Regions from separate parts of the Homo sapiens genome. Here all the other regions are linked to region 3. The links come from fine-mapping of genetic effects on gene expression. A gene starts in region 3. Each other region holds a variant in brackets. All regions are shown on one strand. Distances are between the middles of the regions. Region 1 overlaps SLC18A1 (solute carrier family 18 member A1). Region 2 overlaps CSGALNACT1 (chondroitin sulfate N-acetylgalactosaminyltransferase 1). Region 3 holds the start of ATP6V1B2 (ATPase H+ transporting V1 subunit B2).

Region 1 (10,673 bases), 27 kb before region 3:
CTGAAACCAAAACCTGAATCTTTGGACTGGAAATCATTAATCATCCTACTACACAGCTAGGTATGTGACCTCTCCATAGCCCCTTTCATCCTCTCTCACCCTCCCCTTTCTCAGACTGCTTCTCTGAGGGACCACACACCCTCTTGGGCTTGATTCATGGGTGTGGACGTGGGAGGTCATTCTACAAAGGAAGCATGTTGTCCCTGTGTGACATTGAACGAAAGGACTCATGGCACCCACCTCCTCCTGCCAGGCCCTGAGCGGGGGTGCTGAGGTCACTTACCCAGCTGCCACTTGGGGGAGCACATGGTCTGCATCATCCAGATGGGCAGTGTGGGCTCCAGGATGGCCACCCCCATGTTGGCAAAGCAGATGGACCCTGGGGAGACTGTTCTGTGAGCAGCCGTGGCTGCTTGAAGCCCAGACACTCCCCGCCCAATGGGAGGTCATCGCCAGCTTACCTGCAGCCACCAGGATGTAAGGGTCTTTGAGAAGCATAAAGAGGGGAGTCCCCTTGGCACTCTGAGAACATGGATAACAAAAAATGTCCATTTGTACAGTGCATACATCTCTCCTATTTTCACAGAATCTGAGAAAGTACAATTATGGGCTTAGAGACCATCTACAGTATCTCCTTTACTGCAGAGACCAGGAACCCCAGTACAGGGAGAGAAAGTGACTTGTCTGATGCCACAGAGGAAGCTGGAGGCAGGACCCCTCCTGTGTGAAAGGTAGGCACTGTAATAGTCACAGATAGAGAAGCAACATATTCCAGCCATGGTTCCTGCGTTCACGTGACCATCAACAAGGTCAGAGTGGATTGGTAGCAAGGTCAGGGTTGGACAATAGATGTCTGGACTCCTGGTTTCCACTAGATCTCCCTGGTACTAATATTTGTCCTGGGAGAACCACAGGCAGAGCACCGAATCCCAAAAGCAAGCACAGAAGCCATAACTCAGAAAGCCTCTCAAGCTTTCTGAATTCTTCATTCTGATCATTTTGAGCCACACTGAACTAAGGTAGAAGAAGCAGGGTTAAAATACAGCCTAAACATCCAGGACCCACTCTCGTCAGGACACACTCTCATCTAAACTTGGTCGCCCCACCCTCTTTCCAAGCATCCCAGCAGTGCCTCAGCCATCATTATTGCCTTTGCCTAAACTACACGTTCTGAGCTTCTCCATAGTTCCATGTTCTACCCACTCTTTAAAGTCAAGCTTAAATGGCTCCTTCTTTTCTAGAGAGCTCCCTGACTCAGTAGCTGGGGCTTCTCTCTCTTCCAGACATCCTGAACACTATGTCCTAATCCTTCATGGTGTTTACTACTTTCTATCTTGTAATAGATTGGATCATTTTGGTATGATAACCCTCTCTGCACACACACAATAGTGGATTGATAAATTTAGAGATCCTAAAACTAAAGAGATCATTCGCTTACCCAATTATTATTCGAAGTAAAGAAACTGATGTAAATCATTAAAATATACATTTAAAAGTACAATAAACCCTTTGACCCAACAGTCCCACTTCTAGGAATTGACTCTAAAGATTAATGACAACATTATAAACATGCAGTCATGCAAATTACAGCACTATTTATAACTATAAAATACTGAAAACTACCTAAACATAGGAGATGGAATAAAATATGGCGCACACACTATTGTGTACACATACAAAATTGTGTGTGGGTGTGTGTGTGTCTATATATATATATATATATATATATATATATATATATATATACACCACCAGGTGGAAAATAATAAGGAAAGATTCTGTGAACTAGTAGAGTAATTTTCAGGACATATTATTGAGAAAAAAAGGAGAACGCAAAAAAAAGAATACATAGTGTGCTGCCTTTCATATAATAGAAAAGGGAAAAATAAGAAAACACATAAGCGATTTATTTTGAGGAAAAAACACTAAGACACAGGAAAGACAAACCAGAAGGCATTAAAATTGGTTACCTATGAGTGGTAGGGGTGGGAGAGGGGGAGGGTTAGAAAGACTGGAGGGATTGACACTTTCTGAGTACACCTTTTGGAATAATTTTGACTTTTAGGTGGTAATGTCCTATATATTAAAAAAATAAATTATATTAGTGTTATGGGCTGAATGGAGTCCCCCCACCTTAGTCAAATTAGTATGTTGAAGTCCTAACCTAATATGACTGTGTTTGGAGACAGTATCTTCAGGGAGGTAATTAAGGTTAAATGAGGTCATAAGAGTGGGGGCTCTAATCTGAAAAACTGTTTTCCTTATAAAAAGAGGAAGGGACATCAGGGCTCTCTTCCTCTGTGCATGCACACTGAGTAAAGGCCATGTGAGGACGCACTGAGAAGGTGGCTGTCTGCAAGCCAGGAAGAGAGGCCTCACCAGAAACCAACCCTCAACAGTACCTTGACCATGGACGTTCAGCCTCCAGAGTCGTGAGAAAATAAATATGTGTTGTTTAAGCTACCCAATCTGTAGTATTTTGTTCTGGCATCTTGAACAGACTAAGATAATTAGCCAGAATGGAGAAAAAAAACTAAAACTAAATGCCAAAAAAAAAAAACCCCACAAATGGATGCAAATGAATTTCAAATGTATCATGCATTACATAATCACACTAAAGGTGGAAAAAAGAACTAATGGAAGTACGGTAATTTCTAGATACAGTATTTGGCTATATTCATTAAGTCTAAGGGAAAAAGAACTGAAAAGTCTTGAATATTTCTTGGTAGCTTTGTTTTTTATAATGGCATGGGTAAGTATTATAGAATTATACAAGTAAGTAAATTTTTTAATCTATTTGTAAAATAGGTGTTTCACCTATTTGTATAATAGGGGGAGACAAATTTCTTACTTTGAAAGAAGAATACATGTATGGAATGGGGCAAGCAGGGAAAAATCCCGTGGAGTTGGGCTGGAAGTGGAGGTCTCAGTACAAACTTGTGTGTGTGTATTAGCTCTGTCATCAAGATGGCAGGGAAACAAGGTGACCCCAATGGCAAAGAGCACATTGAGTCCCCATAGTTTTTTGTTTTTTTTGTTTTTTTTGTTTTTTTGAGACAGAGTCTTGCTCTGTAGCCCAGACTGGAGTGCAGTGGCATGATCTTGGCTCACTGCAAGCTCCTCCTCCTGGGTTCATGCCATTCTCCTGCCTCAGCCTCCTGAGTAGCTGGGACTACAGGCACCCACCGCCACGCCTGGCTCATTTTTTTGTATTTTTAGTAGAGACGGGATTTCACTGTGTTAGCCAGGATGGTCTCAATCTCCTGACCTCATGATCCGCCTGCCTCGGCCTCCCAAACTGCTGGGATTACAGGCGTGAACCACCGTGCCCGGCCCCATAGTTTGGTTTCTAAACACCATTCCCTACTAACAAGAACCTGGGCTCCTTGGGGAAATGAATTCAGGGCTGAGGCAGGGAAAGTACAAGATGAACGTAGGACATATTTTTGTATCGAAAAGTAAAACATTACTCAAAAAACAATGAAGGTATGTTAAAATGACACAGCAACAAGTTAATGGGCTTTGACTTGTCAAATCTAGGACAATTTGAGCATCAAAATAATTAAGGACGGGAGGCCAGGAGTTCAAGGCCAGCCTGGGCAACACAGGCAGACCCGGTCTCTATAAAAAGTTAAGCTGGGTGTGGTGGCATGCCTGTGTAGTCTCAGCTACTCAAGAAGCTGAGGCAAGAGGGTCACTTGAACCCAAGAGTTGGAGGCTACAGTGAGCCATGATCACACCTCTACACTCCAGCCTCAGTCACAGAAAGAGGCCCTGTCTCCAAAAAAAAATTAAACAAGTAAATAGAGTGATGAACTACAAAAATAGGACTCCATGATTCTACACTGATAATATCAGATAAATAAATGTTTTTTAAGTTTTTTGTGAACATAATCACATGTACATAAAATTATTATATACCTATTTGGTATAAATATTTATAAATATATACATATAAAGAGAGTAAGAAAGGAATGGCTATTGCTTTTTTGTTTTTTAGAGTATTTTTTTTGAGACAGAGTCTTACTTTGTCACCCAGGCTGGAGTGCAGTGGCTTACTGCAACCTCCGCCTCCTAGGTTCAAGGGATTCTATTGCCTCAGCCTCCTGAGTAGCTGGGATTACGGTGTGCACCACCATGCCCAGCTAATTTTTTTGTACTTTTAGCAGAGACAGGGTTTTGCCATGTTGGCCAGGCTGGTCTCAAACTCCTGGTCTCAAGTGATCCGCCTGCCTTGGAGGAATGGCTATTCCTTACAGCAAAGTGCCAACTGATGATTTGGATGAATTGGTGAACTAGAAAAACCAGTATTTTGTAAACATTATAGTAAAGATTGGGTCAGTCAAGAATCATCAATGGATAACAAATCTAGGCAGAAAGGAAATTTAAGGAGGAGTAGGAGATTTATATGACTTTACAACATCTCCCACA[T/G]GTTATATATTAGTTACAAGGTGAAGAAGTAATTACTACACAAGAGACCCAGACAACACCTTGACCCAGTGATCAAAATGGACATCACCACTGAGAGGCGACGGGCATTAAATACCTCCAGACATGAAACTCAGAAGGCTACGGTATCATGAAGAAACATCAGACAAACCAAATTTAGGAATACCCTATAGATAATTGTCACAAATGTCAATGTCATGAAAGATAAAGGCTGAGAACTTTTCCAGATTAAAAGAGGCTAGAGAGGTGTGATGCATAAATGTCTTACACAGTCATGGACTGGGCTTTGCATTAGAGAAAAAAAGACTTCCATGGAAGACATTATCGGAATAATTGACACAATCAGAGTAGGCACGGCAAATTAGACTAAAGTATTATATCCATGTTAAATTTCCTGAATTTGATAGCTCCATTGACATTACATAAAAAAAAATCCTGTTCTTAGGGAAAATGCTCTAAAGTATCAAGGGGTAAGGGAACGATACAATCAATCTACTGTCAACTGGCTCAAAACATTAGTAATAATAATAATAATGTATATTTGTTAGAAAGAGAGAGAATGGGCTGGGTGCGGTGGCTCATGCCTACAATCCCAGCACTTTGGGAGGCTGAGGCGGATGGATCACTTGAGCTCAGGAGTTCGAGACCAGCCTGGCCAACATGGTGAAATCCTGTCTCTACTAAAAACATAAAAATTAGCTGGGCATGGTGGTGCGTGCTTGTAATCCCAGCTACTTGGGAGGCTGACACAGGAGAATCATTTGAACCTAGGAGGCAGAGGTTGCAGTGAGCCGAGATCGCCCCACTGTACTCCAGCCTGGGTGACAGAGCAAGACTCCGTCTCAAAAAAGTAGATATTTATGGGTGCCTCACTTTCCTGGAATCTCAAGCTGGATTTACTTGCTGAGTAATTCACCACTGCTGCACAGTTAATAATAAACAGTGGCTGAACCACCTGGATGAGTGTCCCTACGCCTGGGCCAGGGCTGGAGGGGTGCTGGGCCCAAGCATATGCCAGGCCTGGGAGCCTGTGCAGAGGGTATTTGGTGCTCCTTGCCCTGAGGAGTCCTGGATGGGTGGTGGTTATGACTTCCCTCTCCAGGACCCAGACATCCTACTCCTAAAGCCAGTCTGTAAAGAGCAGAGCATCTCAGGAGACTGCGGGAGGCTCCTAGTTGCTCTGGGGGAATTGGCACTCTAAAAGTATTGATTATGTCATAGTTTCAAATTCTTTCAGATGCTTCTCTGTTCACCCTCGATTTCATTATCTGTAGAGTGAGGCTAAAAATTGTACTTATTTCATGGAATGTGTAAGATGCAGCATAGATGGCGCACTAAGCTGAGCTCCTGGTGCGTGAAAAGCCCTGAAGAATGATGAGGTGTTAGTGTCATGACTTCCGGAATACCTTGACAAGCTGTGGAATGCAAAGTCAAGGCCTTTAGATCAAACATTTTTACACTTGATGCACTTTCTTACTTTTTTTCCTTCGTGGTGGGATATGGATTTTCCAGAGCTGTTTTTGGCTTAGAGTCAAACAAGTACCAACTCTGATATTTATTAACTGTGACAGAATGACAGTTAGGGATATTCACACAGGATGTCTTTTATTGCAGAAGATGTTGTCTAGGTGGCCCCCACAGCCTTCATCTCTGAGATGATGTTACAGCTCCAAATACTCAGTCCCCAATGTCATTATCTCCTAGCTATAATTACATGTGTGTGTGCACATATATATATATATATGGAGATCTCCAGATATACATGAATATATATATACATACCCCATATATGTGTCGAATATATAGATAGATAGATAGATAGATTCTCTATGGCTTCTTTGATTATGCACAAGGTTCTTCCACCATCTTTGTCCAACATCAAGCCAAATACGTCACTATCCCCCACACTACCTGAAACGTAACCCTATCCTGGAATCCAAACACAGTTCTCACTTTCGCTGACCCTATTCCTCTTCACTTTTCTTCTTATGGTTTGGCAGGCATGCCTGGGTTCCTGCATTCAGCCATCCTGTATAACTGTTAGAAATGGAGCTTTGTGTCTGCTTACCTCAGGAGAGACTTTGGAAGGCTGTAGGATGCAAAGCTGGAGTGCTAAGAAACAAAGAAGGTGAGACAGTTCAGCGTGTCTACTGATTAGCTGGGGGCTCCAATAACAGCTGTAGTGCTACCACCCTATTATGCATAAATTTAACTCCCTGAGTTTCTTCTTTCTTTTCTACAACGGGGCAGTCCTTGATCCATCAAAACATGTCCAAACCGCCCATTCTTAGTGAAGACTGACACTACAACATAATGCATTCCCAACCTGACCTGGGCTGTCACCTGCTGGAGGCTCTGATGGTGACTTACCTCCATCCAGTAGTGCCAGGAAGGCCAGGATGAGGAAGGGTGCAGACTTCCCAACAAACTCGTACATTACACTTCCAAAGGGAGCTCCCACTGGAGAGGCATAGGAGACACAGATTCCAGAGGTGAGGGTGAGTCCTTTGCAGTGAGAATTATCCATATTTACCCCGTGAGCATTTGCAGAAGGCCTGCTAGGGGCTAAGCTCCACCTGAGGCTCTGGGAATTCAGAGATGGAGACATGATCCCTGTCCCCATCAAGCCCACTTTCTAGTGGAGGAAGTGTGTGTGTGTGTGTGTGTGTGCGCGCGCGTGTGTGTATGTATGTGTGTGTGTGTGTAGGGAGGGACACAGATAATTAAAGCATGGTGAAAGTTTGACAGTAAAATGTTGCATGCAATGAAAGCACAGTCAATGTCTCAGGAATTTCAGGCAGCCACGAGGGCTTTGCCAAGTGTAGAGTATCTGGAGGGGAAGAAGCTTGTGTGAAGAACACAGAGGTGTCAGAAAAGAGTGTGTAGTTGGAGAAGAAAAAGAAGAAAGCGGGTGTTAGCAGAGTATGAATATTTGCGAGGAGAAAAGTAGAGCCTTGCATATGCAGGAACCTTGTATATGCAGATGAGTCATGTACTTGGCCTTGCGGCCTATGGAGAAACATCAGGTGAGAAACATCACCTGCTCTGGGCTCAGGAAGATTGTTCAGGCAGCATCGTGGTGGAAGGAGGGAGTACACAAGAGGGAGGATGCTGCCAGATTCTAACCCAGAAGTGACAAGGAGCCAGGAGTGGCTGTTGAGGATCTAACAAGCTTGTTCATTTGGGAGCTTATTCATTTGGGACATGATAAAGGATTTCAAGATGCACAGGGTTTAGCTTGGGCATTTGGGTTGATGGATACTAGCAAATAACAGGGATTCTGTTTCCTCTGCTTCCCATGGGGCTAGAGGGTGGGGCATAGGCCGGGGAAGAAATTTCAGGTGTTTTGTTTTCGATGAGCTTGTAAGCTCCTAGAGGGCAGGAACTATGCCTGGGGCTTCCCACCCTACAGTACTGGCACTGTGCTTGGCATGTAATAAGTGAAAGCATGTAGCTTGTCAATTAAGTTGTATGAGGGAGGAGCCTCAAAGAAAGGGTAGTTTTATCGTTTGGGGCTTGGGTTTCCAAGCCCAGAAAATCGGAGTCTGTATCCTGGCTGTGGCGTTTCCTAGCTGTGTGATGTTGGATGGTGTTTTCGCCATTCTTATTTTCATCTCTATAATGGGGAAAATCATTCCTCCTTTCATTCCTGGTGGTGAGGAATAAAAGAGATTATGCGTGTAACAGATTTAGCAGAGCATCTGGCAGCAGCCATGCTCTGGTGCTGTGTGCATGGGAACCGAGGCGAAGCAGTGGCCTCTAAATCGGGGAGGCTCACTTCCTCCAACAGGCTGGGCTTCCGGACCTTTCTCCGACGTTTATGTGTTTCCCAGCTTCTTAAGGAGAAGGAAATTTAACCTTTTCTCAGTGATATTTCTAAAGGAGTTGAAATAGGATGAGGCCAACAAGGGAAGGAAAATACTCGTCTTCTACACCTCGGGAACACCTGCTTCCTAGAGTCCCACCCTCCCGAACCCAGAGCTCCAGCTGGTGCCACTTACCCAGCAACCCCAAGGCCAGGCCCCCCAGAGCAGTTCCCATGGCTCGTCCTCTCTCATGGTCATCAGTGTAGACACTGGCCAGCATTCCAAGACCTGCGCAGAGAGTTACAGATGCAGCTGGCCCCCTGGGGGGCTTCTATCCGCCTCTCAGAGCCCTTGGTCCCACCCTGTTATCTCTTCAGTGACAATCTTAGCTAGAGTTTCAGTTTGAGGGGTTTTACAAAACTTAACCCGTAGTATTTTTCAAGTACTACCCTCCCTAGTCCCCCAAGCCCCCACATTGTCCACTCCTGTTCAGAATATTGTTGATAGTGCAAGCCCTCTGGAAGGATAACACAGAAAATCCATTGTCTGATTATACCATGTTTCATAACATTTTATCATTTCCTAGCACATTTCCCAAAATGAGGGGTTACAGAGCAGATCAGGGAAAGGAAAATCTAGGCACACAGAGACCATTCTATTTAACAGGGGTGCCCAGGGAAGAGCAGGAAAGCACTGCAGACCTGGAAGAAAGTGTGGGCTAGTGCTGTACGGCAGCTGGACCCTCTGGCCTTCATAGCTATGGGTAAAATGGCATAAAATGCCAACTTCATAAGATTGCATTAGATATTATATTCACCAGTACTTTGAAAACTGTGCTGGTGTTACCAGTAGTACTAACATGATTATTCCTATAAAGTACTAAGAGGGGGACAGAAAAAGGACCATAGAGTGGCACTAAATGAAAGCCTGCCCTTCTTCATAGCTTCACTGGAGGCTTGCTCTGACCTGAGCTAGCTGCATCTGAATATTAGCAGAGGAAGTTATGTCAGGCTCAGAGATCTATGGACCCTGTTAGAAACTCTGTAATTCCTTTCTTTTTTTTTTTTTTTTTTTGAGTTAGGGTCTAGCTCTGTCACCCAGGCTGAAGTGCAGAGGCACAATCATGGCTCACTGCAGCCTTGACCACCCAAGCTCAAGCCATCCTCCCACTTTAGCCTCCCAAGTAGCTGGGACCACAGGTGCACACCACCATGCCTGGCTAACTTATTCTCTCTTTTTTTTAATAGAAATAGGGCTCTCACTATGTTGCCCAGGCTGCCCGGGTTGGTCTCAGACTCCTAGAATCAAGCTATCCTCCTGCCTTGGCTTCCCAAAGTGCAGGGGTTACAGGTGTGAGCCACTGTGCCCAGCCCAATTCCCTTATTTCTGAATCACAATTTCTACCTATCCAGGTGACATTTTCCTTAATTTCTCCATGTAAATATAGGATCTGAGGTAGTAAGAGATGTGTGTGTGTGCATGCCTGCATGTGTGTGTGCATGATGAGTTGCCAGTGTTACCTGCAACAGATGAAAATGAAGATCCAATGCCTTGAAGGGTTCGGGCCACAAAGAGTAGAGTATAGGTCCCAGAAAAAGCAAACACTGGGCAGAGAGAATAGCAAGATAACTGCAGTTAGCAAATTGCCTTTGCTTCCCCAGCCGCCAGAGAACATGCCCGTGATACTGCAGATATGAGTCTTGATGCATATGTTTTTAATAAAGCATGATGACTGTTCCCTGTTTTTTGAGTTGTCTTTTCAATCTCCCACTCCTCAGTTTTGCTATTTAAATGGCAAGAAAACTGAGAAACCACAGAAGTATAAACCGAGTCACCACACAGCAGATGGAAGGCTGAGTCTGTACATCTCTTGCCAAGAACCCAACATTCTGTCCACTGAAATGAGGGATGTCCATGAAGCTCAGTGTCCTAGGCTGGAAACTGGTTCTTAGATCATACTCCTGGATCGTCCATGTGCAAAATCCAGATCTGGTCTTTACCATTGCTGGGTCCCACAGGATCATCTGGAGTACAGTGACAGTAAGTAGGTGCTTCGAGGATTATAGGAATTGGGTAGAAAATAATATCTTGTGATACAATCAGATCCTTTTTTATATCTTATATTGAACGATCTTTTAACCAGACAAAATCAGCAGGTATTAAATTATACTGAATGCGCAGCTCTGCTAGACTCTGTAGCAAATGCAAAATAAAAATAACATCTAGTTATTGTCCGTGAAGAGAGGCAGTGTGTTGAAGATGGACACCCAGGAAACTGAGATCCAACAGGAATATGTCATCCAAAACAATAAGAGAAATATGGCTCTGTCCTGCCAGGCTCCCAGACAGTCAGACCTAATGGTTATCTCCCCTTGCTCCCTGAACATCTCCATTATCCTATTCTTTTTTCAAGGTTCT
Region 2 (10,673 bases), 500 kb before region 3:
CTTCTACAGAACTGGAAATAATTTGAATTGTAAGATCTTCATTAAAAAAATAAAACGTGGACGTTTCTTAGGTCTTCCCACTCATTTCTGGATGGTTTCATTCCTGAAAGCCTATGAGGGGGAAATAACTCAAATAGCAAATTTTAGCCTGTGGGTCTCATCCTGGGTCTTATCTCTACTCTGCCACTAATTAGCTGTGCGGCCAGAGTGCACTTCACAATCTCTCTCCTGGCCTCAACTTCTTCCTTCTATAACAAGGAAGTTGGACTAAATACTGTCAAATATCCCTTCTAAGCCTAAAATGCTCCAATTGACTCCAGGAAAATAACCTAAGAAATGCATATTTTAATTCAAAGTAAAATTAAAGCATGATGAAATAAAAACATGGCGTTTAGATTTCTAACATCATTTTAGAGGCTGTACTGCAGATTGGAGTAGAGATTGTGAATTTAAGAGAAAAGCAACAATGTCAAGACAAAGGAACATGGGTAATTTAGAAAGGCCTCCGAAAGTTACTAAGCTTTCATGTGATATCATGCACATGTTGTTTAAGAGTTTGTGGAGTCAAAAAGGAGTCAAAAGCTTTCTCCTTCAGCGCAGGAGATTTTGTAATATTTCTAAATGATCCAGCCAAACAACATTGGAGGAAGAAAAAAAATCAAACACTACACTACACAAGCCATCATCCTGTCACAAAGCCATTAGCGCTCATGAAAAACGATGGTATTGTTAAGGTTTATTTATAGTTCTTTCTTAATCAAATAAAAAATGAACAGGAAAACACTCTGAATATAAATTTTTAAAAACTTTAAAGACCCAAGACCAGTAGCAAAAACATGTATGAAGACATAGTCCTACAAATCGTCTTTTAAAAACAAATTGGATAGGCAGGAATGCTTACGGCTATGGCTGAATTCTGCCTTTCTCCAGGACATCATGAATAATTAGACATCCAGCAGTCTAGGTTACTGCCATCAGGACTTTGGGGAACTTGACAATGTGAAAAAGATTCTGTCCCCAATCCAACTTACATTTTATGCAATTTGCCTCAAACACCACTGTAGCATCTTACAGTAAAGCAAGATAATGTGTGTCATATTTTTTTAAGTCATGCAAACAACTGAAAACAACCAACTCTTCGTTCCAGGGATATAAGCATGAATTAAAGGCAGGCCTTCCCTCAAGGGGCTCACTGTTTAGCAGGAGAGAACAACATTTAATACATAATTGGAACAGGGCATATGAAACACCACGATGCAGATGTACATAAAGGGAAGTGGGGGCAGGGAAGTGCAAGGAGGAAGCAACCACCTGTGGCTGAAAAACCACAGTAGCTACAGTGGTTATGAACCCAAACTCTAGAATGGGGCTCCCCAGTTTCAGACCGCAGCTTGCTACTTGCTAGCTGTGTGACTCCGAGCAAGACATTCAGCCTCTCTATGCCTCAGTTTCCCAACTGTTAAATGAGAGGGATAGTAATGGTGCCTACCTACAGGTACCACACAGGGCTGTTGCAAGGCTTCAGCACACAAGTTCATGTGGGGCATCTAGAATGGGGGTCGGTACACAGGAACCACACACAGTGTCGACTGTTCTCACTGTTACAGAGAAAGCTTAGATGGTGCTGAATCTTAAACGCTGAGTGGGCATTTCCCAGAAAGACAAGTATAGGCAGAGCCTCCCAGGCAGAAAACAGTGCATGCCAATGAATACTAGCATGAAAAGCAACCCCACGTGATTTGGTGTAGCTCAAAAGTGACATGTGAGGGGTTGCAAGGCAGGAGGTAAAGATGGTAAGGACAGATGGCAGAGGGCCTGTGTGTGCCATCCATAGGAATTTCTCCTTTATTCCCACAAGAACGGGAAGTGTGAGTTTCAAGTAGGTAAGAGCATTGTCAGATCTAGCAGGAGAGTGGAGGATGGCCAGAAAGAGGCAAGGATGGAGACAAAGAGACCAAATAAGAGGCAATAGCAATGGAGAGAGATGACCACCATGAAGAGGAAAAATGGTAGTGAAGACACATCAGAGGCAAGCACTTGGGAGCCATAGAGGCAGTTTCATGGTCTTACTGACCCTGAACTGAGGGTTGCAAGCAAGAGGGTCAAGAAGGAGTCCAGAATGACATCCAGGTCTATGGCTTTGGCAGATGATGAACAGTGGGGTTGATCATGATGGAAATTCAGGCAGAAGAACAGTACGGGGCTGTTCAGGGAAAATGTCCAGACAGAACCACAAGTCACATTAGCACCTGGGGAAAGTCTGGCCACTACCCTTGTAAGATGACTGGGCACCAAATCTCAGGGCCGGGCAGAGCTAAAACAGAAGAAAAGCAAGATAAATGGCTGGAAAAATCTAGAGACTGGACCAAATGCTACCTGGGGAGTGAGGGAGTGAGTAGCCCAGAGCCCCCCTGTACAAGGTACCCAGCAAGCTCCATGCTATGGGTCCAGCGGCTTCAGGGCCCTTGCTGGGACCGAGCAGAGTCAGAGGCAATGAGTCCACTGTGGGACATGTGGACTTGAAGGAGCTCAAGAGGCAGTGGTAAACAGGACTCTGGAGTTCAGAAAAAGAGGCCTAGAAACAGAGATTGGAAGGTCATTAGAGAGAGGTGGTGGGTAACGTCCCACCCAGAGAGGGTAACGTGAATTAGAAGAGGGTGAGAAATACGACTGCAAAAGAGAGCTATTGAAAGGGGAAAGAGATGGTGTCCCAGGAAGCAAGGAGGAAGATCAAGAATAGAGAAGTAAACACTGAAATGCTGCCAAAAAGTTAAGTAAGTGCATCCTCGGATTTGTCAATTAGAAAGTCATGGTGAGAAGGGTCACAGTGTTATTCATGGGAGCTCCACTGCGGGGGCTGAAGAGTGAATGGGAAGTGAGAAGGCTGCTGGGGAAGCAGGGAGAAGTCACTGGACAAAGCAGTCCCATGAGGTCCCCTTGATATGCTCTTCATACAGATTTTTAAAAAATAAGAAATTTGTCCAAGGTCCCTCAACCAGAAAGTCAGAAAGCTGGATTTCAGTTCCTTGCCTTCTGGCCCCAGAACCAACGCTCTTTCCATCATACACTTTGGAAACATTGTGTTTGGGGTTAGGATATGGGAGGAAACCAACAGCTGTGAACATTGAGAATATTAACTATGAATACGATGCACACTTGTTCATGCTTTTGCTCTCATGGGAAAATAAACTAATATTTGAATAAGCACATAGCACAAGCTACTATCTCATTAATACCCATAACAATTGTTTTTTACAGACATTTACATTGTACAGAAGAGGACACGGAGGCTCACAGGCTAAGGTAACTTGCCCAATAAGGCCGAAGAATTAAGCAGAGGAGCAGTGATTCTCAAAGAAGTTAATCTGGAGGCACTACTGATACTGCTTTAAAACTTACCTATGTACCTCACACTTAGTAGGATGGCTACTATTTTTTTAAGATCAGAAAATAACAAGTGTTAGCAAAGATGTGGAGAAATTGGAATTCTTGTGAATCACCGGTAGGAATGCAAAATGGTGCAGCTGCTATGGAAAAGAGAATGGATAACCCACAAAAAAAAATCATTGATTTACCATATGATCCAGCAATTTTGCTTCTAAGTATACAATCATCCCTCATTATCTATGGGGGACTGGTTCCAGGACTCCCCACAGATACCAAAATCCTTGAATGCACAAGTCTCTTCCATAAAATGCCATAGGATTTGCATGTGACCTAGGAACATCCTCCCTTATTTTTTAAACATCTCTAGATTACTCATAATACCTGACGCAATGTAAAGGCTATGTAAATAATTGTTGCAGTGTATTGCTTTTTTCTTTTTTTCTTTTTTTTGCTTTGTTTTTTTGAGATGAGGTCTCACTATGTTACCCAGTCTGGTCTCAAACTCAAGCAATCTGCCTGCCTTTGCCTCCCATGCTGGGACTACAGGCATGAGCCACCGCGCCCAGCCTCGTTTTTTATTTTTAGTTTTTTAATGACTCATTGCTATTTTTCTTGTTTTATTTTTTCAAATATTTTCAGGTCACAGTTGGTTGAATCCACAGATGCAGAACCCACAAGGCCAAGTGTATACCCAAAAGAATTGAAAGCAGGATCTCAAAGAGATTTCTGTACACCCATGTTCATAGTAGCATTATTTGCAACAGCCAAAAGGTGGAAACAACCCAACTGTCCATCAACAAATGAAGAGATACATAAAATGCTCTGATCATGAAGTGGAATATTACTCAGCCTTAAAAAGGAAGGAAATTTGGAAA[C/A]AAGCTATAACACAAGTGAACCATGAGGATCTGATGCTGAGTAAAATAAGCCCATCACTAAAGGGCAAAAATTATATGATGTTACTCACATGAGGTCCCTGAAGTAGTCAGGTCCATTGAGCTAGAAAGTAAAATTACAGTTGCCAGGAGATGGTTAATGAGGAACAGGAGTTCTTGTTTAATGGGTACAGTTTCAATTTTGCAAGATGAAGAGTTCTAGAAATGGATGGCAGTGATGGTTACAAAAGAATGTGAATCTACCTATTGCCACTGAATTGTACACTTAAACACTGTTAACACTGTAAATTTTATGTTCAGTGTATTTCATCAAAATTTTTAAAAGAACTTAGGGGCTGGGCACGGTGGCTCAGCCTGTAATCCCAGCCCTCTGGGAGGCCGAAGAGGGGACAGATCACGAAGTCAGGAGTTTGAGACCAGCCTGGCCAACATGATGAAACCCTGTCTCTACTAAAAAATACAAAACTTAGCTGGGCATGGTGGCGCGTGCCTGTAGTCCCAGCTACTCAGGAGGCTGAGGCAGGAGAATCACTTGAACCCAGGAGACAGAGGTTGCAGTGAGCTGAGATCACACCACTGCACTCCAGCCTGGGTAACAGAGTGAGACTCCGTCTCAAAAAAAAAAAAAAGAAAAAAAAAAACTTAGGTAAGTATTATTTCCCATTTTAAAATAAGAAATAAGGCACAATGATGTTAAGTCAGGTTTTTTTTTTAGTAATATAAATTGTTTACTGCAGACCTGGGCCTAGAAACCAAACCTCCTATTTCCGGGTGTGTGATCTTCCTAGACAGCACTCACAGGTTTGCTTTCAACTTCGACTGTGACTTGAGGTTAGGAAGTCATTATAATGTGTTGCCATGGTGTCCTTCCTTATTAATAAACCTGGCCCAGTGATCTTTCCTATCTACAAAATCAGGCTAATAGCCTTCCTTTTATGCCTCTCATAATGGTACTAAGGTGTTTTTATATTATTGACAAAGTAGTTATGGGTGAAAATATGATAGAAAGGATACGGACCGTATGACACAGCCTTCCTCACCATTAATCAGGGAGGACTTAGTGCATGATCCATGGTGGTATCTATGAATGTGAACCAAGTCTCTCCCTCTATCCCTGCACCTACAATTGATTGAACTGAAAACATCCGATGTTCCTATCTCTTTCTGTAATTGTCCTTCCTCTCTTGAACAAACTTCTTAAAGGCAAATCTTAACATATGCTAAAAATGAAACAAATAGACCACCAAAATCTGTCTGTCCAAGAAAAGGCAATCAACCTCTATAAAATTCTTTGAAACCCTTGAGGTCACTTTCCTGCAGTGTGGCAGTAGCCCCTAGTTTCCCATATCATATCCATCCTTCCCTTTCTCTTAGTAACAGAACATTTGTATTTTTGAAGGGGGCAAAATTTTTGGAGAAATTACCTTTCCCAATATCCACTGAAAACAGGGATAGCCAATGAAATGTCAGTGGAAGTCCTTAGGTGGGGTTTGCAGGAAGGAATGTAAAGAGAGCTTATTCAGCTTGCAGGTGCCTTTCTGACCTTCCACCCTTCCCTCTTATGCCATCAAGACAGAAATGATGGCTGGAGCTGCAGCAATCATCTTGAGTTCATGAAGGAAGGAGACCAAGAAAATTTCAGTTCATCTATTATCCGTTTTTTTTTTTTTTTTTTTTGATACAGAGTCTCACTCTGTTGCCCAGGCTGGAGTGCAGTGGGGTGATCTCCATGCACTGCAACTTCAGCCTCCCAGGTTCAAGTAATTCTCGTGCCTCAGCCTCCTGGCTAGCTAGGATTACAGATGTGCCACCACACCAAGCTAATTTTTGTATTTTTAGTAGACAAGGGGTTTCACCATGTTGGCCAGGCTGGCCTCAAACTCCTGACCTTGAGTGATCTGCCCACCTTGGCCTCCCCAAGTGCTAGGATTACAGGTGTGAGCCACTGCACCAAGCCTACTCTGATATCTTAAGACACCAAAGCAGTGCCAGCAACTGTGTACCTCCAGTCTTCTTGTTATGTTCTGAAAATTAACCCTTGGAGTTTAAGACCACACAGTGGAAGGTCTGTCACTCTTAGCCAAATGCAATTCCTCAGGGGTACACCTAAGATCCTGAAAAGACCCTACATAGACAATTAAGTTATGAATAAATGTTACTGGATAATGATGACGATGATCACAAGGATAATGATGATGACAATGTTAATATCTATGCAGCGCATCCTACATGTCACGTACTGAAGCCCAGAAAGTTTAAGTAATTTACCCAAGATCTTGTGGCTAATAAGTGGTAAGACTCGACTTTCAATCCACTCAATCTGGTTCCAGAATCCATGCTTTTAACCACTACAAGATGATAATATCAAGTAGAACAAACTAATATACACTGCACAAATGAATAAACACAGATATACTCATCTTAAAGCAGCTTTGTTGATTCATTAATGAAAATTCTTATTATATGCCATCCCCAAATTGCTCCTTTATTTGAGAATTATTTCCTTTAGGAACTGAGATTCTTACAGGTCTGGCAAACATTTGATTGGCTTCATAAGTGCCTACCTGTTACATTAAATACTGCTTGAACCATCATTATAGCCTCCTAACAGATGCCCTTGTTTCTGATCCCTCCTCTTCACCATCCATCACACCACCATTGCAAGATGAATCTCTCTACAGTGGAGCTCTGAGCCCCTCACAGCCCTTCCCAAAGGTATTCAGTGGATCCCTAGAGCCAAACTCTGGGCCAGGTGCAATGGCTCACACCTGTAATCCCAATGCTTTGGGAGGCTGAGGCAGAAGGATTCCTTCTGAGACCAGCCTGGGCAACATAGTGAGACCTCATCTCTACAATAAAATTAAAATTTAAATATTAGTTGAGGATACACCTGTAGTCCCAGCTACTTGGGAGGCTGAGGCTGGAGGATCAATTCAGCCCAGGAGTTGAAGGCTGCAGTGAGCTATAATCACACCACTGCACTCCAGTTTAGGTGTCAGGGTCTATGTCTCTAAAAAAAAACTTAATTAATTTTTTAAAATTCAAATTCTTCAACCTGCATCTGCTCCCAGCCCTTTCCCACCTTTCCAGCACTCCCCTTCCCAAGCAAAACCCTCCAGCCAAACTAAGCACTGGTTGTCCCCTGCATGCACCTGGAATGCTCCATCTCAGTCCTTGTCACAGACTGCTCTGTTGGCCAGACACCCATCTTCTCCCATCCATCACCCAGTTCCATGTGTCTATACCAGACCTCGTCCTCAAGACTCAAGTCACATACCATGTCAATGACTCCTTCTGGACAAGGGCTGAGCTGCCATGGATCTAGTGCAGAAGGAAAAGCTCTGGGTTTCAGGGTCTCCCCTAAAGGGAATCAGTGTAGCCCAGCCCCCCACCCAGTAGCCCCCACTTAGACCAGGGCCAATGACTAGATCCACTTCTTCCCCTACACCCCTCTTAGCCCCCTTCCTGGTGTGGGTTCACTTCCCTTTATATCTCATCTGATCAACATGATCACCGTGGACAGAATTCAAGCTCAAAAGGGAAACCTGTAACCCTATGGATGTCTGAGGCAGGGGAAGAAGGGAGGTCATTGGGAAGTGCTCACTAGTGTCCCTCCAATAGGATGCTACTGTCTTCTGATCTATTACCAAAATAACCCAAGACCCTGAAATCGAGAGCTTTTCCTTCTCAACTAGACCCATGGCAGCTCAGCCCTTGTTCAGAAGGAGCCATTGACGTGGCATGTGACTTGGGATTTGAGCCACTCGAAGTTGTTACATAATAAGAACAGGCTGACCTCTCTTGGTTTGTTGGTTGGTTGGTTTTGAGACGCCATCTCACTCTGTCACCCAGGCTAGAGTGCAGCGGCGGGATCTCAGCTCACTGCAAGCTCTGCCTTCCAGGTTCATGCCATTCTCCTGCCTCAGCCTCCTGAGTAGCTGGGACTACAGGCACCTGCCACCAAGCCCGGCTAATTTTCTGTATTTTTAGTACAGACAGGTTTTCACCATGTTAGCCAGGATGGTCTTGATCTCCTGACCTCATGATCCACCCGCCTGGGCCTCCCAAAGTGCTGGGATTACCGGTGGGTGTGAGCCACCATGCCCAGCCCTCTCTTTGTTTTTAGTGCTCCTCAGACCTTCAGGTAACTGGAGAGTTGGTTACTACTGACTGCACAGCACCTTCCACAGTAAAACAAAGTTTAATCAATACAAGAAATCCTCTCATGGTCTGCATGTCTCCCTGATTGATACAAAGTTATCAGATTCATTCACTCAGAACAACATATTCTACACCAAGTAATTTTTGTGATTAAGTTTAGTTCTCTACAAAGTACGTTACAATTAACAGTGTTTTTTAGGAAACTGCCCATGCACTGGCTTTCCTCCCTTATCCTACACGCAGCTCTCAGGAGCCTCTTACATAGTACGGGTGCATATCTGGCAGTGACATCTTTCCTGAGAGCTGTCAGACCCTTGAGGGTATCATCTATGTCTGATTTGCTCTTCCAGCCCCACTCAGTAAGCCTAACACACTACACTGCACATGGGAGATCTTACTTTTTAAAGTTTTGAATGAATGAAAGAATGAGAATGCTCTGAATTAACCAAGCTTGATGGTTAATTACATAATTACATGGATCATTCTTATTCTCTTCTCTCCCTCCTTTCCTCTCTTCCATTTCCCCCAGTCCCTGGAAAAACAAGGCACTAAACGAATGTGCTGCCAAAGGAGAAAGAAGAAAGGTAACAGGGCATTTGAATCACAGACCCTTCCAGGCCGATATTATATTGTTAGATGGAGAAGAAATTTTGAATTTTTCCAAAGTACCATTAATACTTTTTAAAAATAAATTTCTTGCATATCAAAACCACAGTCATCTATCACTTCACACCTTAAGATGGCTGTGATGAAAAAGTCAAAAATATCAAGTGTTGTCGAGGACTTGGAGAAAAGGGAATCCATATACATTGTTGATAGGAGTGTAAATTGGTATAGCCATTATGGAAAACAGTATTGAGGTTCTTCAAAAATTAAAAATGGAACTACTCTATGATCCAGCACTCTCACTTCTGGGTATATACACAAGGAAATAAAATCACTTTTTCAAAGAGATACCTGCACTATTTTCACTGCAGCATTATTCACAATAAGATATGGAAACAATTTAAGTACCCATAGACGGATGGATGGATGGATGGGTGGATAAATGGATGGATGGATGGAGAAAATGTGATATATACATAAAACAGAATATTATTTACCTTAAAAAAGTAGAAAATCCTGCCATTTGTGATAACAAGGATGAACCTGGAGGACATTATGCTAAGTGAAACAACCTAGACATGGAAAGAAAAACATTGCTCAATCTCATTTCAATATGGAAGTTTTAAAAGTTGAACTCAAACAGACTAAAAGGGTAGTTACTGTGTGAAAACAGAGTTGGGAAATGGGGAGATTTTGCTTAAATGATGCAAACTTTCCATTACAAGATGAATAAGTTCTGGTAACCTACATCATAGTGACTGTAGTTAATACACGTATTGCCCACTTAAAATGTGCTAAGAGGGTAGATCTTAAGTATTTGCACCACAAAAAGGTACTATGTGAGGTGATAATTAGCTTGATTATGGTAATCATTTCACAACATATACCAAAGCATCACATTGTACACCTTAACTGTATGTAATTTTTGCCAATTATACTTCAATAAACTTGGGGGAAAAACAAATAGAAAGTAAATCAGTAATTCTACCTTAAGGATAGTAACTCAAGGGTAGCTATTTATGCAAAGACTTACATCAAGAATTCCATTAACTCAGGGAAAAACTGGAAACAATTTAAATGTTCAATAATTATTTTCTAATGCATTTTTATGCATCCATTCAATGACATGTTTTTGAATAATATTTAGAAGGAAAAAGCTCATCATTTGAATTTTAAAATCCAGGGAAGGCTGGGCACAGTGGCTCATACTTGTAATCCTAACACTTTGGGAGGCTGAGGCAGGAGGCAGGAGGCTTAAGCCCAGGAGCTCAAGACCAGCTTAGGCAATATGATGAAACACCATCTCTACAAAAAATACAAAAAATTAGCCGGGCATGGTGGTGCATGCCCATAGTCCCAACTACTCGGAAGCCTGAGGTGGGAGGATTGCCTGAGCCGGGGAGGGGGAGGCTGCAGTGAGCTGAGATCGCACTACTTCACTCCAGCCTAGGCAACAGAGCGAGACCCAGTCTCAAAAAAAAATCCAGAGAAAAAAATGTAAGGCTAGAGTTTCAAAAATTGTACATGACATATTATGAATAGATGTTTAATATATAAATACAACCATAAACATAAAAGTAAAGCAACATTCCAGAATGTTGATGCTAGTTAAAGCTGAATAATCGA
Region 3 (10,584 bases):
GGAAGAAAACCAGAGATCTCAGTTTTAGGAGGTCAAAGTACAGTTTCCAGCCTATACACCTCACTCTGCCTCAGATGGTCAGAATTTAAAAACAGCCAACACAGCCAGGTGCGGTGACTCACGTCTGTATTCCCAGCACTTTGGGAGGCTGAGGTGGGTGGATCACCTGAGATCAGCATTTGGAGACCAGCCTGGCCAACAGGGAGAAACCCTGTCTCTACCAAAAATACAAAAATTAGCTGGGTGTGGTGGTGGGCACCTATAATCCCAGCTACTAAGGAGACTGAAGCATGACAATCGCTTGAACCCGGGAGGTGGAGGTTGCAGTGAGCTGAGATCATGCCACTGCACTCCAGCCTGGGCGACAGAGCAAGACTCTGACTGAAAAAAACAAACAAAAAAAACAAAAACAAAAGCAAAAAAAACCAATAATAAAATATATAAATAATTAATTAGCTTCCTCTCCCATCTTATGCTGAAAATGTTGTACTGATGATTTTATATTGGTATATGCCTTGCTACATAGAAACACATAGGTCTGTTTATTTAATCTGTTGTGGTTTGTCTTCATAGTATTTTCCTTGATTAGAATTTTCCAGCAAATAAAGAGAGATACACATTATCTGGAAAAAAATCAGTCACTGGCATGAGATTTTCTTACCCCTTTCTTCTCTATTTTTCTTCCCCAATAATCATTTGTAATAAAAGAATAAGAGTTTGCCTTTCTATCTAAGATGTTGATTTCTGGAAGCTTCTTTTTAAATTCTTGAGAAGCCGGCATGACATGAAATCTTCCCAACTCACAGATGGAGATTCAAAGACAGAAGGAGTTGAGGATTGGCCCAAGGTTACACTGTGCATAAGGAGACAGTCAGCACTGAAACTGGGCTGGTGATTCTGAGTCTCATGTTTTGACCACATTCCCTACTGCTGGGGAATTCCTGGGATTTTTGCATTCCTTGGAAGTAAAACAAGGATATGGTTTCAGCAAATAACAGGAGGACAATAGCCAGTATACAATATCTGTAGGATGACTCTTCCTTGGCGGGGGGCGGGGAACCCTCCGTATGGAAGAATAAGATTGGTGGACAACTGTTCATTTTTAAGAAAAAAGCAACACATTTTCATTTATCTAATAGATATTTACTAAGTACTATGTGTAAGTTACCTTGCTAGGTACTTTAGATAGAAGACAAGAAAATGATAAGATACAGTCGCTGCTTAATACAAACTACTCAACTAGTCCAGGAGCCATATCATTTCTTTCTTAGAAAAGAGCCTGACACAGCCAGGCATGGTGGCTCACACCTGTAATTCCAGCACTTTGGGAGGCTGAGGTGAGCGGATCGCGAGGTCAGGAGTTCAAGACCAGCCTGGCCAACATGGTGAAACCCCGTCTCTACTAAAAATACAAAAATTAGCTGGGTGGTGGCAGGCACCTGTAATCCCAGTTACTCGGCAGGCTGAGGCAGGAAAATCGCTTGAACCCAGGAGGCGCAGATGGCAGTGAGCCGAGATCATGCCATTGTACTCCACCCTGGCTGACAAGAGCAAGAATACGTCTAAAAAAAAAAAAAAAAAAAAGAAGAGCCTGACACATATTAATTAACACATAAATATTCTGTTAATCAATAAATCAAAGCATGTAATAATAATGTTAGCTAAGCCATATCTAGCCTTTGCTATTTGCCAAATACTTTGCATTATCTCTTTTAATACAATAATTTTATGAAGATAATATTATTCTCATTTTATAAACTAGAAAAGTGAGGATTAGAGAGAATAAATTTTGTTCAAAGTCATAGAACTAATCAACTCAGGACTTAAACTAAGTCTGTCTGACCTCAGAGTCCATGCCCCAAGCCCCTGATAGAAGAAAAACTTCAGCTGAATTAAATTTAAAGGTGTTTAATTGAGCAGTGAATGATTTGTGAATCAGGCAGCCCCCAGAATCACAGCAGATTCAGAGAGACTCCAGGGATGCCTCGTGGTCAGAACAAATTTATAGATAAAAAAGGGAAGTGACCTACAGAAATCAGAAGTGAAGCACAGATAGAGCTAGATTGGTTACAGCTCAGTGTTTGCCTTATTTGAACACAGTTTGAACACTCAGCAGTGTATGAGTAGCTGAAGTACCACTGCTGGGATGGGCCAAGACTCAGCTACTGTTACAGGCGCAAACTCCTAGTTAGGTTTTCAATTTTGTCTACCTATTAAGTTAGGTTGCAGTTCATCCACAAGGACTCAAATATAGAAGTACAGAGTCCTTCTCGGGCCATATTTAGTTTGTTTTAGCACCTCTTACCCTTAAAACTGTGCAAGCCCCCCCACCTCCAGCTGATACTCTCTCTGTGTGAGTATATGTGACTTTTGGATATTTAATACACATTTCAGAAGAGAAAAAGATTTTTCTCTCCAAATTGCAGCATCAATTATTGGCATCAATGCACAATTTCCTGCTTTTTACCAATGTACAAACATGTTCTACACTACTGCAACTGGTCTATATCTGTGCTAAGCTTTCACTCAATATTATTTGGTATAAAGAGTTCAAATACTTGAATTCCACCAGCTATATATCATATTCATGTCAGTATCTATTAAATATACACTACTGGTGCAGTTTACTATTATGGGATATTTAGGTTACTATTTCACTTTCACTCTGATGAATAGCATTGCCATAACAAGCTATAAACATTTATTCCTTTGGTTAATAATCATATCATTGAGATCATGGAATCAAATTATTGGATCAAAGTGCGTGAACAAGTTTATGATCCCTAACCTATACCAGGTTGCTTTGCAGAAGGTCTGGCCAATTTCCAAAGTCATCAGAAATGAGCTGGTGCGACACTTAGCCCCGAATCCTGCCAACACTTAAAAAAAATCATTCAGTTTTCTTAATTTAACAGATAAGGTGGAACGGTGATGCTTAGTTTGAATTTCTTCATTACTAGAGAAACTAAAACTTTTCTATATTTTCCTAAATGTATTTTTCTATGTATATAACACTTCATTTATCCTTTTCCTTCTTGCATATTAAGGGGATAATTTTTTTAAACCCAAGGAAAAGCATTTATATAATATTGCTATAAATAATTCTAAGAAACTCTGAATTTCAGTTGACTAACAGTTTTGGGTTACCTGCGCTTTGCACAGGTACCATCGTAAGATCCAAATAAATTACACAATTTTTAAAAATGTAGTTGTCTGAGAAGTTAGAGACGGTGTCAAGTGATACCAACTATCTGACACAACCATGTGGCAATTTGATTAAACACTTGTGATTCCATAAATGGCAATACCACTCTCCCAATTTGTCAGTGATGCTTACTTGGTGGTTTTCTTTAAGAGTTTCAGGCTCCTTTGACAATGTGATAGAAATCTGTGGGTTATTTCCACGGAAAATATCCATATGCACACATTTTGCACAACGTTTCACCGACTTCCTAGGGTGCCAAGTTAATAATCCCTGTTTTACAGCAATCTTGGACTTATCTCTATCATTGTTTTTTTCATTTGAAATATTTCTCCCAGCTGCACTGTGCTCCACATCCCCCTTGCCAATCCCCCATTCCATATCTGAGGTTACAGAATGGAAAAGTGCAGGAGAAAGATATAAATGGCCACTTTTTAATGATATCATTATTGCGATGAGCTCTGTGACAGAGCTAAGGCCAGCGTGCTATGTAGGAAAGCCATCATCTGGTTTGAGTCCATGTTGCTCACCCAGACAATCACAATAGCTTCCTAACTGGTCTCTCCATTTTTCTCTTGCCTTCTTCACCAGTTCATATTTTGCCCAGTAGAACAACATGCCTCTTTAAAGCCTAATCAGATCATATTCCTCCTTCATAAAATTCTACAATCACTCTAAGAATATAATTCGAACTGCTATCTGCATAGCCTCCAAAGCTGTACATGATCTGGCCCTGCCCTCTCTCCTGCTGCTCTCTGCTTAGCTGTGTCCATTCTAGCCCCACTTTCCTTCTTCTGCCTCAGGACCTTGGCACTTGCAAAACCCTCTGCCTATGCCACACATCTCTTAGAGCTTCCCATGATCTGCTTTCTCTCTCCATTCAGATCTCAGATGACTGAGAAGTGCATTCCCTGATCACATCATCTAAAATCTTATCTTCGTCTAGATCACTCTTTTCTCTTTATCTTGTTTTATTATTTTTCATCATACTTGACACTACCAGGCACTTTATTTACATGTTTGTTTTCTGACTTTCTCCCTCCAACAGGTATCAGGATGACAGAGTCTTTGTTTATTTACAAATATATCTCCAGGACTTAGATCAGCACCCGATACACATGTGCATTTTCTCAACAGATGTTTGTTAAATAAATGTTGGGGTTACCACTCTACGTATACACATTAGACCACAACTAATTTCTATTACCAGAGTAAAAAGTTAAAAACAGGTTTTTTTTAAAGTAAAAGCCATGAACTACTCCTAAAAGAATAACATAAAAATTGTAACAACTAACAGTCTGATATTCACATATGAAATTTACCTACCATTGTGAAAAATTGGCATGAGAAGACTAGATTTGTAATTTTTATTAAAAAAGTTGTTATGCATTGTATTTGAAAAAATCAGTACAAACACCTGTTAAAGCAGTGAAACTACATAGAAAGATTATTAAATTAAAAATAAAATTTCTCCTACTGTTCACATGTTAATCTACTTTACATGGCATTTTGCAATTGCTTTTTTATTTTAAACCTAATAATGTGTCTTGGACTTTTTTTAAAAAAAAAAACTCAACCCTTGAGCCTCCACTGAATTCTTTTCAAAAGTTTGAGAAATACCTTTGACTTAATAGGCTATAACTTATGAATGGGCATTTAGATTGTTTCTAGGTTTATGCTATTACAAAAATTTTTTTTGAATATCTGTGTGTATGTATATATACATGTATATGTCTGTAGACCATATATAATAATATATACCATATGGTGCATGACGTAATGTATTATATATAATGGAAAATATTTGTCACATACACTGAGTGGATAGATAGATACAGATATATCTACAGAGAGAGAGAACGATAAGTTCCTAGTACCAAAATATTTGAATGAGATATCACCAAATTGTTCTTCTAAATATCATACCAATTGTGCTCTTATCAGTAAAGTATTACAATTCCTGTTTAATTTTACACGTGCCAACTTTGGACATTAGTTAAACTTAAAAATTATAATCTTCTGGGTGCAGTGGCTAACGCCTGTAATCCCAACATTTTGGGATGCCAAGACGGCGGGATCAATTGATGTCAGGAGTTCGCGACCAGCCTGGCCAACATGGTAGAACCTCGTCTCTACTAAAAACAAAAATTAGCCGGGCGTGGCGGTGGGCACCTGTAATCCCAGCTACTTAGGAGGCTGAAGCAGGAGAATCGCTTGAACCCGGGAGGCGGAAGTTGCAGTAAGCCGTGATTACGCCACTGCACTCCAGTCTGGGCGACAGAATGAGACTCCCTCTCAAAAGAAGAAGAAGAAGAAGAAGAAGAATCCATTCCATTGCTCCGGCCTCCAGCCTGGGCTGTCATCCTACACTAGTCCCACCCCTTACACAGCTTCCAAATCTGCCCCTATTTTTCACACCGCTACGCACATCCTATAACAAGCCAATATATGTTTGTCGAATGGATACATGCGTGAACGAATTGGGTAGGGAGTAAAGTGAACTAAATGATGCCACATGTGTTAATAATCACTGAAACATGTTTTCCATTGCTTCTGTTTTTCAAAGCGGTTTTCACAGCTTGAGTTCTCTCCATTCAGCGTCACGAAAGCCCATTCGAAATGGATATCAGCTGACGTTGGCCTGCACGCGTTTGCCTTCCTCCCCTCACTCCGCTTGTGCGCCTCTCTTTCGGCTGGCTTTCCTCTCTCCTTCCATCTCCCCTCTTTCGCTTCCCTTCCCTCTGCGCCCGCGCGCGCCTCCCAGCACGCTGGTCAGCTCCTCTTGCTCGCAAGCAGGTCTGGCCCCAGCGGCGCGAAGTCACGAGGCTGGGGGCGGCCGGCGGCGAAGGGGGCGGGGCGAGGCCGGGGCGCCGCAGCGCGCATAGGCGGAGCCTCGGGCCGCGGGCCGCCTTGGTATATCTGCGCGTGCGCGGCGTCGCTGCTGGGCCAGTCGGGACAGAGGAGACAAGATGGCGCTGCGGGCGATGCGGGGGATTGTCAACGGGGCCGCACCCGAGCTACCCGTGCCCACCGGTGGGCCGGCGGTGGGAGCTCGGGAGCAGGCGCTGGCAGTCAGTCGGAACTACCTCTCCCAGCCTCGCCTCAGTGAGTATCAGAGAGTAATACGTCTCCGGTCTTTGCTCCCTAGCCTAGCCCTTTGCTCCCAGTCACCTGCTTAGCCAGCGGGTAGGGGGTAGGATTTGTTTTTCCCTCCCGCGTCTCCCCTCCGACCCTGACCCACTTGTCTCTTTAGAAGGAGATTTGCCTGTACCTAATATTTCCAGGAGATGGGCTGAGGGCAAGAGCACCAGCGGGAACTTTTTCCTGGGGTTGGTGGGCTCCTGGCTGTTGCCCTACCCCCTCCCCTCCCCAGCTTCCCTAGGCTGGAGCCTTCTTAGGCACTTGCTTCCCGTCCCCGAGGGCCACTTCTTGCCACTCCGATCTTAATCTTCCCCTGACTTCATTTGGATATCTAGGGGTCGAGGGAACGCCCCTTCTCCCCTCCCCCTGGTGAGGACCTCAATGGGGTCTTCAACTCCTGCGGAGGGCAGACGGTAGAGCCTTCGCTGACGTGGTCAGGCCTTTCGTGGATGGAGGTCAGGCCAGTAGCCAGAGGGAGATGTGGCTTGGTGTTTGGTGGAGGGGCTGCTCCGCAGAAGGACACCTAGATATCAGAGAACGCTAGAGCTGAAAAGTACCTTGCAGGTCATCCAGTCCAACCCTATCATTTTACAGGTGAGAAGCCTAAGGTTCTGGAAGGGGTAGGATTTGCCATGCTTCAGACACTTAATTATTGGCAGAGCAGGGACTAAAAATCCAGGTTCTTAAATTCTCGCTGGGCCTTTTTCTACCGTTGCCTCTTCATTTACTGACCAGTTAACCAAACTTGGTTGAGTGCAGGGTTCTTTGGGGAAGCCAGGTGGCTTTGCCCATAGGTGGTGTGTGTGCATAGGCTTGTTTAAATGTTGTGATTTTTTAAATAAAAAGGCCTTAATGAACTAGGTTTAAGTGGATAGCTCAGCAATTCCAAAAGAAATGGTTCTTGATTACTAGAGAATGCAGTTGTGTAGCATCCAACTTCTTCACAGCTTTCTTCGGAACTGGCAATGAGCCCTCGAAATAGACTTTTTAAAAAACTGGGAAAAGCACATGATGTTTCCCCAGGTGGTGAGACTGCATTTTCACTGGTTAATTGCCAGAGTGTCTGTCTCTAGGTGGCCGACTGATTAAAAAGGATTTCAGATGAAGGGTGTTAGTCTGGGCGATCTGAAGCCTGACTAATCCACATCCTGATCTGTCACTGGGTCATGTGATAGCACTGCAGTGTGAAGAAAAAGGAAAACATTTGATTCGGTGGATTGCTGAGATGTGCCTTTTACAGTAACTGGGAATTGTTCGAATTAGAAAATGTATGTTGGGACTTATCTGAGCTGAAGTAGCTACTTCAGGAAATCGGCAGATGTTGCATTCTTATGCAAACCTTGGCAATAAATTTATACCTACGAATTACAAATTCTCTTTTATTAATTGCGTTTGTATGCATTGCCTTTCTTTGGGTAGAACAGATAGACATTAGTGGTGCCTCTCAAAAAAGGTTATAAAGGTGCAGTAGTCAGTTTCCATATAATTAATCATTCAGTGTCAATTCAGAGAATATCAACTGAAATAACGTTGTTTAAAGAGTACTCCATGATTAAGATTGTAAACCTTTAAGAGAGATGAATATGATTTCTCCATGGTTTGTACGTACTTACCCAGTTGCTGAGGGATTTTTCCAGACGTTATTCTTGACAAAACTGTTGTAGCATAGGGCTTCACACTCAACTGTTAGATGTCAGGGATCCTTTTTATGTCCCCACTGCCTAGCACAGTGCCTGACACATAGAATGTGTCTTGTAATTGTGTAACTTGCATTTAAACTCCTTGCTCGAATAATTCAGTGGATAGATTGTGAACATGGGTGGAATCAGAGCAGGGAGTTGAAATGCCCGGTCGAGTTGAGTTTCACTTATATATCCGTGTTATTCTAAAAAGCATAAATGATATCATACTTAGGCTAACAACTAACAGCATTTGAATATCTTCTTATTTTGCCATATTTTTTATTCTACTCAAAAGTTTTAATTGCTTCTGAGTAAATATTGATTAACCTCTTAATTTTTGTGGGTTTTTTTTTTTTTTTTTTTTTTGAGATGGAGTCTCGCTCTGTCACCCAGGCTGGAGTGCAGAGTGGCGCGATCTAGGCTCGCTGCAACCTCCGCCTTCCAGATTCGAGCAATTCTCCTGCGTCAGCCTTTCGAGTAGCTGGGACTACGGGCGCACGCCGCCATGCCCGGCTAATTTTTTGTATTTTAGTAGAGACGGGATTTCACCGTGTTTCCCAGGCTGGTGGCGAACTCCTGAGCTCAGGCAATCCGCCTACCTAGGCCTCCCAAAGTGCTGGGATAACAGGCATGAGCCACCACGCCCAGCCAACCTCTTAATTTTTGTAAATTGATTGTAATTTTTTGTGAATTGATTGATGTTATCATTTAAGGGGACATGTAATTATAGTTATTGTGTGTGTGTGTGTGTGTGTGTGTTGAGACAGGGTCTCACTCTGTTGCCTAGGCTGGAGTGCAGTGGTGTGAGCTCAGGTCACTGCAACCTCCACATCTCAGGCTCAAGCGATCCTCCCACCTCAGCCTCTCAAGTATCTGGGACTACAGACGGACACCACTACGTCCAGCTAATTTTTTTTAATTTTTATTTTTTATTTTTGGTAGAGATGGGATTTCCCCATGTTGCCCAGGCTGGTCTACAACTCCTGAGCTCAAGAGATCCGCCCGCCATGGCCTCTCAAAGTGCTGGGATTACAGGTGTGAGCTGCTGTGCCCAGCCTAAAGCTTCACACTGAACCTTTAGAAGTCAGAGATCCTTTTTGTGTCCCCACTGCCTAGCACAGTGCCTGACACATAGAATGTGCCTTGTAATTGTGTAACTTGCATTTAAACTCAAAAAGCTTTGTTTTTTGAATGAAGAAATGGAGTAATGTTGACAGTTCCACTGTACAAATTAGATCCTTTTAAAAAATAGCTTCAAGATTATAGGACTTTTAAAAGAAATGGAAAACATATTCAGGCTTGAAATTAGGAAATTATCTTGAGCATTTTAGTTGAATTTCTGAAGTCACAAGGAATGAAAACTTGATTTTCTCTTAAAAGAAAAGATTCAACAACATACATAGAGCTTTCGGGTGCTATGTATTTTGAATTTGGTCATCTCCATTTTTCTTGAGACCCTAGATCAACTGGCCTTAAGTTTCTTATATCATAAAGCAGAGCCAGCCCTGCAAAAAGTCAAAATAGGAATCTTCTCCTTGCTTTTTTCCTAGAACCTCTTCTTCAGGTGCTCACTGCTCATCATGCAGATCTCTACTCTTCTTGTACAAGGGAAGATGATTGCTCTGGGTTTTTGTTTTGCTAATAAGGCAGAGGCTAAAAGACTAGGACACTTATTATGCAATGGCTGTCAACTTTTTCTGAGTATTTCGTAATCATTAAATGGTGTTACTAGTGTTGAGCAATATCCTATCCTGCAGGAGGAAGAGGATGTCATCTGATAAAATATGTGCTCCTTAAAACCCGTGTAGATTTTGGGTTTTAGATGTTACTTCATAAATACTTGTCTGGCTCATATGATAGTTCAGAATCAAAGCCAAGACATTTTGGTTGTAAAATATGTTAAGAAGGTAATATAAGCATATATCTTCTGTGTTGTCAGAAGTTCTGATTATCCCCCATTCACACACCTACGGGCTCAAATTCTTTTTCATTTGGAGAGGAGTGGTCAATATGTAGGTAAATAGAAATATTTAGGTAATTTACAAATGGGTTTTTTCCTGTTTTGAAGGGCAACTTAATGTCTTTGACAGCCATAGTTTAAACTGGTATCTCTGTTTTGGGCTGTTAATGGTAATGGTGAGGAAGGCTGGATAAATCTAGAGATAAAAGGTAGTGTTTGTTATCATTCTGCTTGGTTTTCTTTGCAGATAGTTTTAGTACCATGGAGAAGAGCTGTAGTTTTATACAAATTGTCTTTTTGTCCCCACTTGTAGTCCAAGTGCTAGAAGCTGTATGATCTCCATACTTTTTAATTGTACTGAAGACTAAGGCCAGAAATATTATAAGGGTCATAGAGTACCAATCCTAAGATTAAAGAAAAACAAAACAGTTAGAAGCCTGGCTCCCCCATTTAAAAACAAACTTATCAGGGCCTTAGTTTCCTTAGGGTGCATCAGCCTTGCCTACTGTCTTAGCCATTTTCTGCTCCTTTTAACAGAAAACCTGAAACTGGGTAATTTATAAAGAAAGGGAATTTATTTCTTAAAGTTCTGGAGTCTG

What was found. PIP is the estimated chance that this variant, and not a neighbour inherited with it, causes the effect.
Region 1: its variant is fine-mapped to the expression of ATP6V1B2 in whole blood (TOPMed, PIP above 0.99).
Region 2: its variant is fine-mapped to the expression of ATP6V1B2 in whole blood (TOPMed, PIP above 0.99).

The regions. Positions count from the first base shown.
Region 1 is chr8:20,164,586-20,175,258 of GRCh38, forward strand. SLC18A1 (solute carrier family 18 member A1) reads right to left here. Exons shown (of 16, transcript NM_003053.4): 5 at 9,776-9,859; 6 at 8,451-8,543; 7 at 6,820-6,909; 8 at 6,518-6,561; 9 at 462-522; 10 at 284-379. Among named protein-coding and RNA genes, the nearest start is that of SLC18A1, 13 kb to the right of the region's middle. RefSeq lists an enhancer at 1-1,004. The variant T/G (reference allele first, on the strand shown) is at 4,432.
Region 2 is chr8:19,695,217-19,705,889 of GRCh38, forward strand. All of the region lies in intron 1 of CSGALNACT1 (chondroitin sulfate N-acetylgalactosaminyltransferase 1), which reads right to left. Among named protein-coding and RNA genes, the nearest start is that of CSGALNACT1-AS1, 22 kb to the left of the region's middle. The variant C/A (reference allele first, on the strand shown) is at 4,263.
Region 3 is chr8:20,191,236-20,201,819 of GRCh38, forward strand. ATP6V1B2 (ATPase H+ transporting V1 subunit B2) reads left to right here and starts at 6,146. Exons shown (of 14, transcript NM_001693.4): 1 at 6,146-6,307. The coding sequence starts at 6,172. RefSeq lists a silencer at 5,920-6,199.